Regions from separate parts of the Homo sapiens genome. Here region 1 is linked to region 2. Evidence: fine-mapped QTL for protein levels in blood plasma. A gene starts in region 2. The other region holds a variant in brackets. All regions are shown on one strand. Distances are between the middles of the regions.

Region 1 (8,323 bases), 560 kb before region 2:
TTCCATCCTCTCCCCATGCTCCCTCTGTTGTCATTTCCCCTTACTCTCCACTCTTTGCCTGCGCTCTCATTTTCCAAATTTTTGTTGTTCCAAAACTAGGACAACAGATCTTCCTGTTGTCCCAGTTTTTCCCCTTGTTTTTCTCCTATTTTATGTCCAATTAATATTGTGAAGTCAGGCCGGGTGCAGTGGCTCATGCCTGTAATCCCATCACTTTGGGAGGCCAGGGCAGGTGGATCACCTGAGGTCAGGAGTTTGAGAGCAGTCTGGCCAACATGGTGAAACCCCGTGTCTACTAAAAAAATACAAAAGTTACCCGGGCGTAGGCCAGGCGTGGTGGCTCACGCCTGTAATCCCAGCACTTTGGGAGGCCGAGGCGGGTGGATCACGAGGTCAGGAGATCGAGACTATCCTGGCTAACATGGTGAAACCCCGTCTACACTAAAAATACAAAAAATTAGCCGGGCGTGGTGGCGGGCGCCTGTAGTCCCAGCTACTCAGGAGGCTGAGGCAGGAGAATGGCGTCAACCTGGGAGGCGGAGCTTGCAGTGAGCCGAGATCACGCCATTGCACTCCAGCCTGGGTAACAGAGCAAGACTCCATCTCAAAAAAAAAAAAAAGTTACCCGGGCGTGGTAGCATGCACCTATAGTCCCAGCTACTTGGGAGGCTGAGGCAGGAGAATCACTTGAACCTGGGAGGCGGAGGTTGCAGTGAACTGAGATCACGTCACTGCACTCCAGCCTGGGCGACAGAGCGAGACTCTGTCTCAAAGGAAATAAAAATAAAAATATTGCAAAGTCATTTTGCAGCCGTGTAGAAGCTTCTCGGGAAACTGTCGCTTGACCCACCTGTATATTCAAAAGAAAAAGGTGCGATTTGAATTTTCTATTTATTATGTCAGGTGGTGAAAACAGGAATGAGAACGAGGAGTCAACCTCAAAGGCTGAAACCTCGGAAGATTCAGCATCACGCGGGGAGACAACAGGAAGATCCCAGAAAGAGTTTGGAGAGAAACGTGACCAGGAGGGCAAAACAGGAGAAAGACAGCAGAAAAACCCTGAGGAGAAAACCAGGAAAGAGAAAAGAGATTCAGGGCCAGCTATAGGAAAGGACAAAAAAACCATCACAGGAGAGAGAGGTCCAAGGGAGAAGGGGAAAGGATTGGGAAGAAGCTTCAGTCTGAGCTCCAACTTCACCACCCCTGAAGAAGTTCCCACGGGAACAAAGTCTCACAGATGTGATGAATGTGGTAAATGCTTCACGAGAAGTTCAAGCCTTATCCGCCATAAAATAATCCACACTGGAGAAAAGCCCTATGAATGTAGTGAGTGTGGGAAAGCCTTCAGTCTTAACTCCAACCTTGTCCTGCATCAGAGGATCCACACAGGAGAGAAACCTCATGAATGTAACGAGTGTGGCAAGGCCTTCAGCCACAGTTCCAATCTCATCCTCCATCAGCGCATCCACTCTGGAGAGAAACCTTATGAATGTAATGAGTGCGGGAAGGCCTTCAGCCAGAGCTCGGACCTCACCAAGCATCAGAGAATTCACACGGGGGAGAAACCCTATGAATGTAGTGAATGTGGAAAAGCTTTCAACCGAAACTCATACCTGATTTTGCATCGGAGAATTCACACTCGAGAAAAGCCCTACAAGTGCACTAAGTGTGGCAAGGCCTTCACCCGCAGCTCCACCCTCACTCTGCATCACAGAATCCATGCCAGAGAGAGAGCCTCTGAGTACAGCCCAGCCTCCCTTGATGCATTTGGCGCGTTCCTGAAAAGTTGTGTGTAAAGGAAGAATTTGCCATCAAGCCATTTCCCCCTTTTGTTTCTAAAATTATTTCAGAGATGTGTGCTCCTGGAGGGAAAAAGAAATACAGCCTCAACAGATTAAAAAACAAAAGTCACACTTAAGGATCCTTCTAGTCACATCAGCAGTGTTCTGCCTTTATGTAGTAGTTGGGCATATAATCCTTCCACACAGCCCCTGCAGGGAAAGGCTAATCTTACGGATAATCCACGTGAGATTTCCACACAAGAGAAAAGCACACGCATAGTGAAATGTCAGTCTTTTCAGTAATGAGGATACCTTTAAGGCACTCTTGGACTCTCGGCAACCACAACATAATAGTTGAAAGATCAAGATTGGCTCCACGAAAGTGATACGGAGGTTAGGATGCTACTTGCTGCAAACAAGCCCTACTTTGGCCAACATCCTGCTTATTTCTCAAAAAAGAGGGACAGTGAAAACAAAAACGACATTGGGACATGCTGCTCAAGGTAGTTATATATACGATAAGTTGTATATATGATCACTGGTAGCCTACCAAAGCTGTAGAAATCTAGGACTGTGCTAATCAGTATCAAACCAAAGATTTCTATCTCTTCCCGAAAGAGAGGGTATGTGCACCAGTCTACAGTTCCAAAGGACTGCAACAAATGTAGATGGTTCTGTCCTCATCCCTGAGATCAGTTCTACTGAAATGGCAACAACAACTCCAAATACATCTCTCCCTTCTTGAAATCCCTAAAGCACTATCGCACTCCTAAATGCATTTCTCCACAAGTTAGCACTTGATTGTATACTGTCTTTTAATCCTTCATTGTTTCATGTATGAAGTTTTTAATCACCCCCTAACCCCCAAAAAAGATTCGGTTGTCAAGGGATATATTTCTATCCCTGCCAGCACAGTGCTGGACATAGTGAGTACTGAACACCTAAGAGGCACTCATTCAGACTGACTTCTACAGGACTTCTACGTGTGTGATAAAAGCCTGTGAATCGTGAGTCCCTGAAATATGGTAGCCTGGCCCAGCTTCTAAAGAGGACCTTCGTAGCCACAAGGCATGCTAAACCTCTAGGGTCTGATGCTGTTTTTGTTCCAAATATAAACGAAAGGCACTAGTCAGCCGCCTGCATAGACTTTCTAAACAGTGAGTAAATACCATGGAATGTCAGAAATGACTTTATCATCGTCATCTTGAAGAAAAATATGAACACTGATGAAGGTCATTTTTTTTTTTTGACATCTTTCTGTGGCAAAGCTCTTAGAATTCTTTGCAGTTAGCTGCTGAACAGTATGATGATTTGGGGATTTTCTGAATCATTTGTACTTAGATACTGGAGTTCAGAAGATGTGATTTTTGTTGCTTTTCAGAAAAAGGAACGTGGTAGGGAGTGTTTTTTCCCACGCTTTTCCAGTAACTTTGCAAAAGCATTAATTGTTCACTGGCAATTACTAAATGTATTTTGTTGCTCTGAGAAACTCAGCAGTGTACTGAGATGTGGCTGGCTGTGCCATCGTCATAGTGCACAGTGACTTTTCTGTTTCTTATCACTAAAGACTGAGGTGAGGTTATGAAACTTTCATTGGTCCCATCGTTGTGCGCAGGGTGCAACTGGCTACCTAGAAGCTGATGGCAGGAGACTGTTTCACACACAGGAGATTGTGAGCTGTGTAAGTAGTCATCGCCACTCAAGTAGGACAAGGGTCCTACCCAAGGCTAGGACCGCCCTGCGGAAACAGAAACATAGACTGAGAACAAACCTCAAGACTATCAGTGTGACCTCCCCATAACAAGAGAACCCCATATATAGTTTGAGACTTTCCCTTGAGAAACTTATACTAAAACTATTACTCATCAGTCATTCACTGATCAGCAGCTAAAGTCCATGAGACCAAATGGTTTTATATGGAACCAACGAAGTGGGAGCTAAAACTGCACAGTGGTCATTCTTTGGCCTCTCCTTGGCTTTATGACTTAAACCAACTACAACTTCCCTATAGCTTCTAAGCAGTTTCATCAGCATTACTTGGGAAAACGTGTTGCAAGTCAACCAGTCACTAGGATATTTCTACCCATGCAACGGAAGAAAAACCCATTACTCCAGAAGAGTATATCTAAGTAACTAAAATGGAGGCAGAAAATGTTTTAAGGATTTTCTTCAAAGAATAAGCCACAGCAATGGTTTTGTAGAAAACTCCTGTGCTTTTGAGCAAGGACTTTTGCCCTCTAGAAAGCAACTGAGGCCAGGTGCGGTGGCTCACGCCTGTAATCCCAGCACTTTGGGAGGCCGAGGTGAGCGGATCACCTGAGGTCAGGAGTTTTGAGACCAGCCTGGCCAACATGGTAAAATCCCGTCTCTACTAAAATTATAAAAATTAGCCGGGCATGATGGTGGGCACCTGTAATCCCAGCTACTTGGGAGGCTGAGGCAGGAGAATCACTTGAACCCAGGAGGCAGAGGTTGCAGTGAGCCAAGATTGCACACTGCACTCCAGCCTGGGTGACTAGCAAAACTCCATCTCAAAAAAAAAAAAAAGAAAGAAAGAAACTGAAAAGTGAGGTGTGGAACTCCAGGCAACGACCCAAGCACTTATTTTTTAAGAGGGAAAGGACTTTGGTCATGTTTACATTGGCCTTTGGTTTTTTTTTTTCTTTCAGCCACAACTATATGCTGATATAACTCAGCCATCACTTTTGAGTTTTGTTTTTAAATGAAGGTTAAATGTGACCTGTGCCCTCACATTTAATTCCGTTTCATGGAGACATCTTCCTGACTTTGTTGGATAGCTGCCACTAGGGTTGCTTCGATCTTCAGCCACATGCTGTCCTTGAAGCAGCTATTTGAAGATGTGTTTTCTGAGGAAAACAGGCTACAACTGTTTATTAAAACCACTTGCAGTGCATTCGTTTATCAGATGCTCAGTGCAAAGTGTAATTGGGTCATGGTCAAAAACGCTTGCAACATCTAATTGGCGTTCAAGATAGTCATTCAAAAGTTCTTGGCCCGCTGAAGTCTGTTAACAGTTGAAACATTCTACAGTTAACCATTAGCATGCTAGTTGTCCTAATGGAAATTTTTGAAGAGTTTTTCAATATATACCCTACCCTTGCCAGGAAGAGAAGTAAAATCCTCAGGTTGTGGGGTATTTGTTTCTACTCCAGCCTGGCAGGCAAGGCTAAAACCTGAGATTATCGATCTATGAGACATCTTGATATGTAAAGCACTTAATATTAAAGGCATAAAAGTGAAACTGCTAAATATGTATAGAGAGGTTGACGTGTGATACGTGGGACAGTTCACATAGACATCAGAGAATTTATTCCAGAAAGGAGCCTCCTGAATGTGATGAATACGGCAAAGCCTTTAATCACATCTCAGCCCTTAGCATCGGAAAGCTTATACTGTAAATAAACTTGATGAATATT[A/G]TATGTGAGGAAAACTTTCATGTATAGCACTCATTGCTTCAGACAGAAAATGAATTCCGTCGGTATGTTCCAATCGTGATGAATTTGAGAAACATTGCAAGAGGGAGCTCAATCTTGGCCGGGCGCCGTGGCTCACGCCTGTAATCGCAGCACTTTGGGAGGCCGAGGCAGGCGGATCACGAGGTCAGTAGTTCGAGACCAGCCTGGCCAACATGGTGAAACCTTGTCTCTACTAAAAATACAAAAAAAAATTAGCTGGGCACAGTGGCGCACGCCTGTAGTCCCAGCTACTCGGGAGGCTGAGGCAGGAGAATGGCTTGAACCTGCGAGGCGGAGGTTGCAGTGAGCTAAGATCATGCCACTGGCACTCCAGCCTTGAGTGACAGAGCGAGGCTCTGTATCAAAAAAAAAAGTTGCGGGGGGGTGCTCAATCTTAACTGCAGAGGATCTACAGATGAAAAAAAATGTGGGGAAATGCTTTAAAAAAATAGCAAAATGTGCAACTTCTTACAAAAATTGTTAACGTTAGGTACTTCTATATATTTTATATGACCATAATGTCCGTGTGTGTTTTGTACCTTCAGTCCCTTGTTATTGTTCCGTATATTACCTGTAAGCAGATACTGTATTTTATTTTAGCCTATTTGACAGAACACATCACTCAGAAAAAGTGAAGTTTCAGAGCAAACAGTGAAGAAATCAGTGTGATTGTAGACAAAAAGTCGGTTCACAGAACGGAGCAGCGGGGAGAGGAAGGGAAAAGCTTCATAGTTTGGTGCTTATCACATCAAGAGATTGGTAAATTTCTGAGGAAAGACAGGCTAATGGGGCACTGAAATGGAACAACTCCTTTAAACGTGCAGCCTTTTGAATTTTTCCTCAAAACCAAGAAGTTGACCTCTGAGCTGTCAGGTGACCACTGTGTGCAAAGGGGATGGATTCTCTTGTCAGTAGACGGTCTTCTCCATGAAGCGAGAGTAGGAAGTGTACTGGAATGGCCAAGTGGGACTGCTTCAGCTGACCAGGTTCTTTTAAACCGTAGTCATGCTTTCCCACTAACTCTTAAATCCTTATGCTTAGAAAATTGAGGATAAGGCTGGGCACAGTGGCTCAGGCCTGTAATCCCAGCACTTTGGGAGACCAAGGCGGGTGGATCACAAGGTCAGGAGATCGAGACCATCCTGGCTAACATGGCGAAACCCCGTCTCTACTAAAAATACAAAAAAATAGCTGGGCGTGGTGGCGGGCGCCTGTAGTCCCAGCTACTCAGGAGGCTGAGGCAGGAGGATCACTTGAACATGGGAGGCGGAGGTTGCAGTGAGCCAAGATGGCGCCACTGCACTCCAGCCTGGGTGATGGCGTGAGACTCCATGTCAAAAAAAAAAAAAAGGTTGGGGGGAGGATAGGACTGGCCAGGCACGGTGGCTCACTCCTGTAATCTCAGCACTTTGGGAGGCAGAGGTGGGCGGATCACTTGAGGTCAGGAGTTTGAGACCAGCCTGGCCAACGTGGTGAAAGCCTGTCTCTACTAAAAATACAAAAATTAGCCGGGCGTGGTGGTGGGCGCCTGTAGTCCCAGCTACTCAGGAGGCTGAGGCAGGAGAATCACCTAAATCTGGGAGGCAGAGGTTGCAGTGAGCCGAGATTGCACCACTGCACTCCAGCCTGGGTAACAGAGACTCTGTCTCAAAAAAAGAAAAAAAAAAAAGAAAGAAAGAAAGAAAATTGGGGATAGGAGAACAGCAAGGTGGGCATTTCCCGGAATTGTGTGCAGATGCATCCAGTCGTGGCATTGCAAGAAGTCTGTCTGATGAAGCTCGGGAAGCATTTTGCAATATTCCCTTTGGCTGTGTTCCTGTGTTCCCTGCTCCCACTTTTCTTCCCCTGGTTTGTGATTATTAGGAGAGAGGTTTTGCAAAGACTCGTTGCTGTGAAAGAATCTTTTTTTAATTTTTATCCTAGAGTCAGTCACTTTTATTCCAGGTAGTCATGCTGATCTGCTTATCCAAAGCCAGCTAACCAGGTTCATCCTACCATCCTCATGGAAGACTGTGTGTATGAATTGGAGTAACAGAACTGAAATACACTTAAACAGTGACAGCAGTACTTCCCAGGGTGGGGGCCATATTTCTCTGTGTCCTACTCTGAGCAACTTCTCAGAGATACGAGGGGGCTAGGGTTTTCCCATCTGGGAAATGGGGTGAAAGTCTGCAGATTGTTAAATGAAATATAGAATCAGAGAAAAAGAAAAGTCAGTGATATAAATAGATCATTTCATAGAAATTAGGGTAGATTTTTATTTCAACTACTACTGGAGAATTTAATAAAAGGCATTATTTGAAAAGTTTTTCTAACATAGATTTAGGGTTTTTTTTTTTAGAGTGGACACACTACATTTAAAAGCAATTATTTTGCTATTCAGATTTTTTATTATCTGAAAATGAAATTATCTGTTTTACTTTTCAAAGCTTTGTGAAACAAACTTGAAGTTATAGGGAGGTAAGCCATCTCCAACTCTGCAGGTCAAACGAAAGTTTGGGAAATACTTTTGACATCCCACAATACAGAATGTCTTAACATGAGAATTGAATTTCATGATGTGTGGTTCCATTTAATAGCGGACACCACCCCAATCTCATGTTTTCCTGTTACCCTAAAACAGTGGAAGGAAACTGGGTGTTTGGTAGACTTCTAAATCATGGTCTCTGACAATTTGAATCTGAGATTCTCACCTCCATTTACTAAAGAATCGTGACTTAATTCAAATTGCACAGTAATCAGTAAAGTGAATACGTTTTTAAAATGGAATTTTCTCCCTTCAGCAAGCACTCATTAAGGAGTGAGGCTGAGTATTTTAAGATAGAGTGAGATCTGTGAGTGATTGAAAGGTGATATTTAAAAACTTGGATTTCATTCCAGTGTCAGGTTTGGGTTTTAAGTTCCTTTGGTCCAGGGAAGGGTCCAAGCAGCCACAGTTGCCCTAAATCTCCATCATTAAGTCTTCCAGCAAGGTTAAGTGCAGTATGGAAGGAGAAGGGGGAAGAGGACGGTAACGGCCCCACACTCCAGGCTGAGAAAGAGTAATTAGGAGGCCTGAGGAGGGGC
Region 2 (8,323 bases):
TGTGACAATGTAAGATACATTTACTACTGACATGGAAAAGATAGTCATGCCATATTTTTAGGTGAAAAAGACTTTTATGAAATGGTTTACATAGTACCATTTATTTTTATTTTTATTTTTATTTTATTTTCAAGATAGAGTCTTGCTCTGTCTCCCAGGCTGGAGTGCAATGGCGCGATCTCGGCTCACTGCAACCTCTGCCTCCCAGGTTCAAGTGATTCTCCTGCCTCAGCCTGCCAAGATGGGATTACAGCGCCCACCACCATGCCCGGCTAATTTTTGTATTTTTAGTAGAGACGGAGTTTTACCATGTTGGCCAGGCTGGTCTCAAACTCCTGACCTCAGGTGATCTGCACACCTTGGCCTCCCAAAGTGCTGGGATTACAGGTGTGAGCCACCGCACCCAGCCTCTTTTTATTTTTATTATTACTTTTTTGAGACATGGTCTCCACTGCTTCCCAAGCTGGAGTGCAGTGACACAATCGTAGCTTGCTGCAGCTTTCAACTCCAGGGCTCAAGAGATCCTCCCGCCTCAACCTCCCAAGCAGCTAGGACTACAGGAATGCGCCACTACGCCCAGATAAGTTTTTGTTTTTTTTGTTTTTTTTGTTTTTTTTTTTTTTAGAGACAGGGTCTTGCTATGTTGCCCAAGCTTATATTGAACTCATGGCTTTAAGCAATCCTCCCACCTCAGACTCCTAAAGTGCTGGGATTACAGGTGTGAGCCACCACACCTGGCCCCATCCCATTTTTTGTTTAAAAATACACAACTTGCCCATCATGGTGGCTGACATCTGTAATCCCAACTACTCAGGAGGCTGAGACAGGAGGATTGCTTGAGGCCAGGAGTTGAAGGCTGCAGTGAGCTGTGATCACCACTGCACTCCAGCCTGGGTGACACTGAGACCCTATCTCTAAAAAATAAAAAATATACAATTTATGTGTATTTGTTTGTTTAGCCAACAGTGAAGAATATCTAGCAAGATGTTAATAGTAGATGGTGGGATTTCCAATGATTTTAAAATTAATTTTTTGCTTGCCAATGTTTCATAATTTTTCTAGAATGACCATAAATTACTTATCAGTGTCTTCAGAATTAAAGCGCTAACAGGCTCAGGAGAATGAGGGGGCAGAAGACGCCCTGGGATTTAGCCACTGAGAGGCCAAGTGCCTCTAGAGAGAGCATGTCAGTAATGTAATAGAGAGAAAAGCGAGATCCCAGGGAGGTGCTGGATAGACTGGCTGTGGGAAGGAACAGTAATGTGGTCAGCCTCAGATTGGTCATGTAACCAACTCTGCTGCTTAAGAGAGAGAGGCAGGAAGCGGCAGGAAGCAAGTAGAAGCTTTTTTTTCAAAAACAGGGTGGCCATTTTGGAAAAGAATTATGTGATAAGTTGAAAATGCTAGGCTAAGCATTTCAACTAGCTCACACCTGTAATCCTAGCACTTTGGGAGGCCAAGGCAGGTGGATTGCCTGAGCCCAGGAGTTCGGGACCAGCCTGGGCAACATGGTGAAACCCCGTCTCTACTAAAATACAAAAGAAATTAGCCAGGTGTGGCGGTGTGCACCCATAGTCCCAGCTACTCGGGAGGCTGAGGAAGGAGAATTGCTTGAACTGGAGAGGCGGAGGTTGCAGTGAACTGAAATCGTGCCACTGCACTTCAGCTTGGGCAACAGAGCGAGACTCCGTCTCTACAAAAAAAAAAAAAATGCTAGAGGCTGAGGTGGGAGGCCCGGAGTTCGAGATCACCATGAGCAACATAGTGAGACACTATCTCTATAGAAAATTTAAAAATTTAAAATTTAAAAATTATAGGCACATGCCGGGTGTGGTGGCACATGCCTGTATTCCCAACTACTCAGGAGGCTGAGGCAGAAGAATGGCTTGAGCCCAGGAGGTCAAGGCTGCAGTGAGCTATGATTGCACCACTGCATTTCAGCCTGGGCAACAGAATGAGACCCCATCTCTAAAAAAAGAAAAGAGAAAATAAAAATGCTAGAGTGGAGGCTGGGCTCAGTGGTTCATGCCTGTAATCCCAGCACTTTGGGAGGCCAAGGCAGGCAGATCACCTGAGGTCAGGAGTTCGAGACCAGCCTGGTCAACATGGCAAAACCCCTTCTCTACTAAAAATACAAAAATTAGATGGGTGTGGTGGCAAGGACCTGTAGTCCTAGCTACTTGGGAGGCTGAGGTGGGAGAATCACTTGAACCCAGGAAGGCAGAGGTTGCAGTGAGCCGAGATCGCACTGCTGCACTCCAGCCTTCCGACTCTGTCTCAAACAAAAAAAAAAAAAAGAAAGAAAGAAAGAAAAGATAATACTAGAGCAGGAAGGGAGGGATAGTGGAAGGGAAAGTCCTTCCTCAGGGTGGTGTTGGGGTCTAACCTGGAATTGCACAAGAAGCAAGTCTCCCCGAGGCTGGCAGGCAGGATGAGAGGCTGGACTGGCATAGACGGGTGGGCTGAGAATGAGGGGTACACCACAGCAGGCCCTGGGCTCAGGCAAGGAGCTGATTTTCTGGGGGCATAGATGAGATACCAACAGAAGTGCAAGACCCTATGTGACCAGTTAGAGTATGGGGGCTGCAGGGGTCAGCAGGGCAGACCTGGGGCGTGGGACAGTGCTGGCTCCCATTTCCTCCTCCCCAGTTCATTCTGCCCCGAGCCTTCCAGTCAACCTTTTCCCACCCCAGCCCCCCCGTCCCTTGGTGCTCCCTGCTCAGGGACCCTGGCCGTGTGTCCCCAGGTTTGTTACCTGCAGCGGCCCATCACCCTGTGGTGCGGCCTCAACCACTCCCTGGTGCTGAGCCAGAGCTCAGAGTTCAGCAAGGAGCTGCTGGGCTGCGGCTGTGGGGCTGGGGGCCGCCTCCCAGGCTGGCCCAAGGGGAGTGCCTCCTTCGTCAAGCTCCAAGTCAAGGTCAGAGCGGGGTCAGGAGAGTGGGCACCCAGGGAGGATGAGAGCCATGAACCAGGAAGCCCACAGGCTGTAGCTGGGGCTCCTGCAGGGACCCAGGGGGTCCCATTTCCCTAGCACCACCCCACCTCCCTCCTCTGCCGCACACCACGCTCTCTGCTTTCTCCCTTAGCAGACTGTGCTGGCCTTGCCCAACCTCACACACCCCTGGGACTTAGCCGGCTCAGGGCTGGTGTGAGAGGGAAGAATGCAATAGGCAGATTAGCCCGGGCACCCTGGGAAACCCTGCAAGGAAAGCACCACTCAGCCATGCCCCCTTTCTCTCCTCCTCCAAGGTCCCTCTGTGTGCCTGTGCCCTCTGTGCCACCAGGGAGTGCCTATACATCCTGTCCAGCCACGACATTGAGCAGCACGCCCCCTATCGCCACCTGCCAGCCAGCAGGGTGGTGGGGACTCCTGAGCCCAGCCTGGGGGCCAGAGCACCCCAGGACCCCGGGGGGATGGCCCAGGCCTGCGAGGAGTACCTCAGCCAGATCCACAGTTGCCAAACGTTGCAGGACCGCACGGAGAAGATGAAGGAGATCGTAGGGTGGATGCCCCTGATGGCCGCACAGAAGGACTTCTTCTGGGAGGCCCTGGACATGCTGCAGAGGGCTGAAGGAGGCGGGGGTGGTGTAGGGCCCCCAGCCCCTGAGACCTAATCCCCCTCATGCTAGCCTAGTCCCTGGAGGAGGGAGTCCGGCCCCAGGCCAGGGACTAAGGAGCAATGACCATTGTGCACATGCGTGTGGGAAGGGGTTGCTAGGGGGTGGGGACGGCTAACCAGGGTAAGAATGTTCAGGGGGCTGCCCAGGAGGGGCCCCCAACCTGACTATCATGGACAAGAGATTTGATGGATAGAATAAAAGGCTGCAGCGAGGCCTGGTGTGGAAGCCTTGGGGGCTGGGAGGGACAGGGGCAGGGATGGGGTGGGTGGGTGCCCGGCTTGGTGGGTGCAGGAGGGCAGGAGCCCAGGCAGGGGCAGGCAGCACAAGCAGCTCCAGGTCTCAGGTGCAGCAGAGCTGATGCTGCCTGAACCCTTCACATTGTTGTCCACTCCCTGCTCCCAAGAGCACACCTGGTCGTTTGGACTGGGAAGTTCTGGCCCTACCTTCTGGAACAACTCTATGCACAGATGCTCTTGGCTACCCCACTGGGATCCCCTGCCCACTAGACTTGTCCCCATCCTGAGGCAGCCTGTTCCTCCTGACCCCCGAAAGCTTCCCACCCATCTCCCTTCGGCCTGAAGCCAGCCCCCCTCCTCTCTCCCTTCTGTTTACCTCCCAGGTTTGGGCTCTATTTTCTACTCCTTCCACCTCTTCCTGAGTAACAAGGACACTCCCTTCATCCACACCCCATGCCTCCTGCCTTGCTTCCTGTACCTTCAAGTAGTTGGAAGAGGTCATGGGTGAGAATTCCTTCTCCTTGGCCTAGTCTGGCCCAGGTCTGGAGAGAAGGCAATGGAGATGTGAAGTGGAGGCCAGGTGTGGTGGCTACGCCTATAATCCCAGCACTTTGGGAGTCCGAGGTGGGCGGATCACCTGAGGCTAGGAATTTGAGACCAGCCTGGACAGCATGCTGAAACCCTGCCTCTACTAAAAATACAAAAATTAGCCAGGTGTGGAGGCATGCACCTGCAGTCCCAGCTACTCGGGAGGCTAAGGCACAAGAATTGCTTGAACCCGGGAGGCGGAGGTTGCAGTGAGCAGAGATCGCGCCACTGCACTCCAGCCTGGGTCACAGAATGAGACTCTGTCTCAAAAAAAAAAAAAAAAAAAAAAAGAAATTGAAGTGGAAAATGAGCTGGCAGGGGTGGTCAGGCAGGGGGTGAGCAATGAGGGCTCCTGAGCTGAGGAAGCAGGGGCGGGGGGAGGATGGGGGCTAGGGAGTCCTCAGAAGTTCCCGGAGATACTCCCTCACTGGACAGAGTGGGGTTCCCGATGACGTTACTTGAGGCCTGGGAGACGGCCTCTGCCCCTCACTGCTCCTCCCCCTCCTAAGGTCAACATTTATGTGTCCTAGACCTAGAGAGGTCCCAGGACACGCCACTGTCCCGCCTTCCCCATTGCCCGCCCCACTGGCCAGTCCCCACGCCCACACACCCAAGGCTGCCCCATCTGGCGCTGATTATCCTGCTGCTGCCGCCACCGCTGCTGCTGCTCTGCAAAATTCAGCTGCTGCCTCTGTCTTGAGGACCCCAGCGCCTTTCCCCCGGGGCCATGCTGCCTGCAGCCACAGCCTCCCTCCTGGGGCCCCTCCTCACTGCCTGCGCCCTGCTGCCTTTTGCCCAGGGCCAGACCCCCAACTACACCAGGTAGGTCTCTTGGCATCTTCCAGACAGCTCCAGTGAACTTCAGACCCCCGATTCCTTTGGGGTTATGCCTGGAGATATTTTGGGTTCCCTTGCTGACACACCACTCCCCAGATTCCCCACCGCCTCACCCTTCTCTGGCCCCCAAATCCTCCCCATCTGCTGCAAGACCTTGGTCTCCTGCAGGCCACCACTGCTCCCATTCCCCCACCTTCGTCCTCTGGTCTCTTAAGTCTCCCCACCCACCCAGATCCTTGACCCCCCATAGAACCCAAGAGAGAGCCAAGCTCCTGAACTTGCCTGGTAGCTGGATTCCAGGAAGGAATTCGAGAGGGATTGTAGGGGGAGGAGGGGGCAGTGAGTGGAGACTTGGGAGTCAGAATCTGAAGTAGTTTGGAACAGGGGCAGGGCTAAGGTGTGGAGCTCGCGGAGCCTGGCCTCCAGGTTCAATCAGAGGGCCATCGCCACTGCAGCTCCCTCCATCTCTCCACCCCCTCCCCCCCACCGCCTCGTGGCTGTGTCCACATCTGGAAGTAGTTAGGCGGCTCCTGTCCCTGGACTGCCAGGCAGAGTGAGGCGGGAGTCTGGAAGGGGGGCCGAGGAGGATTCCGGGAATTCCTGTTGGGGTGGGGGTGGGGACTCTTGGGGTTGGAGGGATGGTCGAGTTGCCAGGCCCACTTTTCCCTTATCTTTGTGGGAGTCTGGGACACCCCAGCCCTGTCCTGGCTGGTGGAAGCTGCCCCAGGTCTCTCAAGGCCTTTCCATTTCATCCCCCAGCTTCCCTCCTTGGAGTTTCATCCTCATCACCTCATCCCCATCTTGCCAGTGCTCCCCCGTCCCACCCGTCCCTGCTCTTTCCTGACCCCTTTTCTGTTCTCCAGACCCGTGTTCCTGTGCGGAGGGGATGTGAAGGGGGAATCAGGTTACGTGGCAAGTGAGGGGTTCCCCAACCTCTACCCCCCTAATAAGGAGTGCATCTGGACCATAACGGTGAGAAACCCCTCTGGGCACTACCCCTTGTTAAAGTCTCAGAGGCAAAAAGGCCTGACTGCGAAGGGACCCCCCCCCCGTCCCCCCCGCACCACCTTCTCAACCTGGGGCAGCTCCAAGTGTCTTCCCTCTGTCACTGAAGGCATCATTCCCACCGTAACACGCATCATCTTAACCCTTCCCTCAAATCTTCATTCTCCAGTCCCCGGCCCTCCCTCCTCTTCCAAAGCCTCAGCTCTTGTCCCCTGCACAGGCTACCAGCAGAGCTGCAGAGACCAGGCCCTCTGCTCTGCACTCACATGGAGGCCCCTTCCCATTCAGTCCGTTTCTGCAAGAAACGCTTGGGGCAGGGGAGCTGCCCTCTGGCTGGGTTGTGTGGGGCCTGACTCTGTGGGTCCCCGCCTCTGTCCCCGCTATCAGGTCCCCGAGGGCCAGACTGTGTCCCTCTCATTCCGAGTCTTCGACCTGGAGCTGCACCCCGCCTGCCGCTACGATGCTCTGGAGGTCTTCGCTGGGTCTGGGACTTCCGGCCAGCGGCTCGGACGCTTTTGTGGGACCTTCCGGCCTGCGCCCCTAGTCGCCCCCGGCAACCAGGTGACCCTGAGGATGACGACGGATGAGGGCACAGGAGGACGAGGCTTCCTGCTCTGGTACAGCGGGCGGGCCACCTCGGGCACTGGTGAGAACTCCCTCACCTCCGCCTTCCCCCCCTCCAGGCCCCGCCCCGGCCGCAGCCCCGCCCCCAGCCCTAACCTCCGCCCCGCCCACCCCGCGCCCCAGTGCCTAGGGCCCCCTACCTCCCTGACCCATTTTCCTCACTAACCGCCCCTTCAGTCCCTCCTCCCCGTCTTCTCTCCCCTCCTCCCGCACCCACCCATCCCTCTTCCAGGGCCCCCCCCAGGCGCGAGGCGGAAATGGGTCACCGACCCGCGGGTGGAATGGGCGGCCTGGGGTTACTGGGACGGTGAGTAACTGCCGGCCCCCGTCCGCAATCGGGCTCCCTCCGTCGGGCGCGAGGGGGCACCCCAGGGCTGGGGGGACTAGGTTCCTCCAACCCCGGGGGGCCCCTACACCCAGCCCTGGGCTCCCGATTGCGGTCCCATCACCCCCTCCTGGCGGCAGAAGTCTCCCTTGCAATGTTTCAGGCGGGGACCTCCCTAAAGGGGTCCTCGGGGGCTGTGCCCCAAGTCGAGGACACCCTCTCCAGCCTGAAAGGGGACTCTGCTGCAGGGCCGGGGAGATGGGATCTCCTAGGGGAAGAGGCGCGGTGCGGCCGCGGGTCGGGGAGGGGCCAGAAGGGGGCGTCCAGCCAGTTCCTCCTCCCGCTTCCACCGCCCGCCAGTGCGCCCTGCGGCCCCAGACTTCCCCGAGCCGCGCTCCTCCCGGCCGCTCTCTGTTAACCTGCCCCCATCTTACCTCCCCTTCTTCTCGTCCCCTCATCCTGAGCCCCAGACATCCGAGCTGCCTGCCGGGGCTCCCAGCCTAGAGTTCTCCTGAAGCTGACCGAGGGTCTCCACCGCCCCCCACCCCCGCTCCTCTCTCCCCTCCCCAGAGCACCAATTTTGCGGGGGGCGGCTGGAGAAGGCCCAGGGAACCCTGACCACGCCCAACTGGCCCGAGTCCGATTACCCCCCGGGCATCAGCTGTTCCTGGCACATCATCGCGCCCCCGGACCAGGTACCGACCCTCCTCCCCGGGCTGCCCTAGGGGACCCAGGCGGCGCCCTCCAGCTTGCAGCCAGCAGAGATTTATTGAAGATCTGCTGTGTCCCGAGCACTGCGCTTGCGCTGGTGGGCACCCAAAACAGCCCCAACCCCTGCATGCACGCAAACAAAAATGTAAAAATTACAACTGAGACAAGTCTCAGGAGAGCGAGGTACAGGGTCCTGGTATAACACGCGGGCCTGTCACTTGTGAGTGCGCCAGGACTTGACCTTGCCAACCACGACGACCGACACCCCTGCAGGGTCCCATGGGTGTGTGTGGTCCTCCGTGCTGTGGTGTGAACGCCTTCAGGAGGGGGGCCCAGAGGACGCGGGAGGTGGGAGTGGGAGCTGCTGCAGGCACCC

Which allele goes with the higher level. Positions count from the first base shown, and alleles are read on the strand shown. Strength reflects both the effect of a copy and how common the allele is.
With allele A in place of G in region 1, the plasma level of the protein whose gene starts at base 5,079 in region 2 is higher (moderate association).

Evidence for each region. PIP is the chance, under the fine-mapping model, that this variant and not a neighbour inherited with it causes the effect. The UK Biobank Pharma Proteomics Project read protein levels with antibody pairs (Olink). The fine-mapping took linkage between variants from a reference panel, not from the people measured, so its PIPs are less certain.
Region 1: its variant is fine-mapped to the plasma level of the PCOLCE protein (UK Biobank, PIP above 0.99).

The regions. Positions count from the first base shown.
Region 1 is chr7:100,032,402-100,040,724 of GRCh38, forward strand. ZKSCAN1 (zinc finger with KRAB and SCAN domains 1) reads left to right here. Exons shown (of 6, transcript NM_003439.4): 6 at 904-8,323. The coding sequence ends at 1,796. Among named protein-coding and RNA genes, the nearest start is that of ZSCAN21, 13 kb to the right of the region's middle. RefSeq lists enhancers at 4,929-5,430, 5,431-5,930. The variant A/G (reference allele first, on the strand shown) is at 5,219.
Region 2 is chr7:100,597,285-100,605,607 of GRCh38, forward strand. PCOLCE (procollagen C-endopeptidase enhancer) reads left to right here and starts at 5,079. Exons shown (of 9, transcript NM_002593.4): 1 at 5,079-5,267; 2 at 6,146-6,254; 3 at 6,675-6,933; 4 at 7,807-7,931. The coding sequence starts at 5,173. FBXO24 (F-box protein 24) reads left to right here. Exons shown (of 10, transcript NM_033506.3): 9 at 2,747-2,917; 10 at 3,250-3,833. The coding sequence ends at 3,615. PCOLCE-AS1 (PCOLCE antisense RNA 1) reads right to left here and starts at 6,754. Exons shown (of 9, transcript NR_038910.1): 1 at 6,554-6,754; 2 at 5,056-5,882; 3 at 4,336-4,399; 4 at 3,439-3,568; 5 at 2,756-2,905; 6 at 2,387-2,518. RefSeq lists an enhancer at 6,188-6,980 and silencers at 6,988-7,367, 7,548-7,697.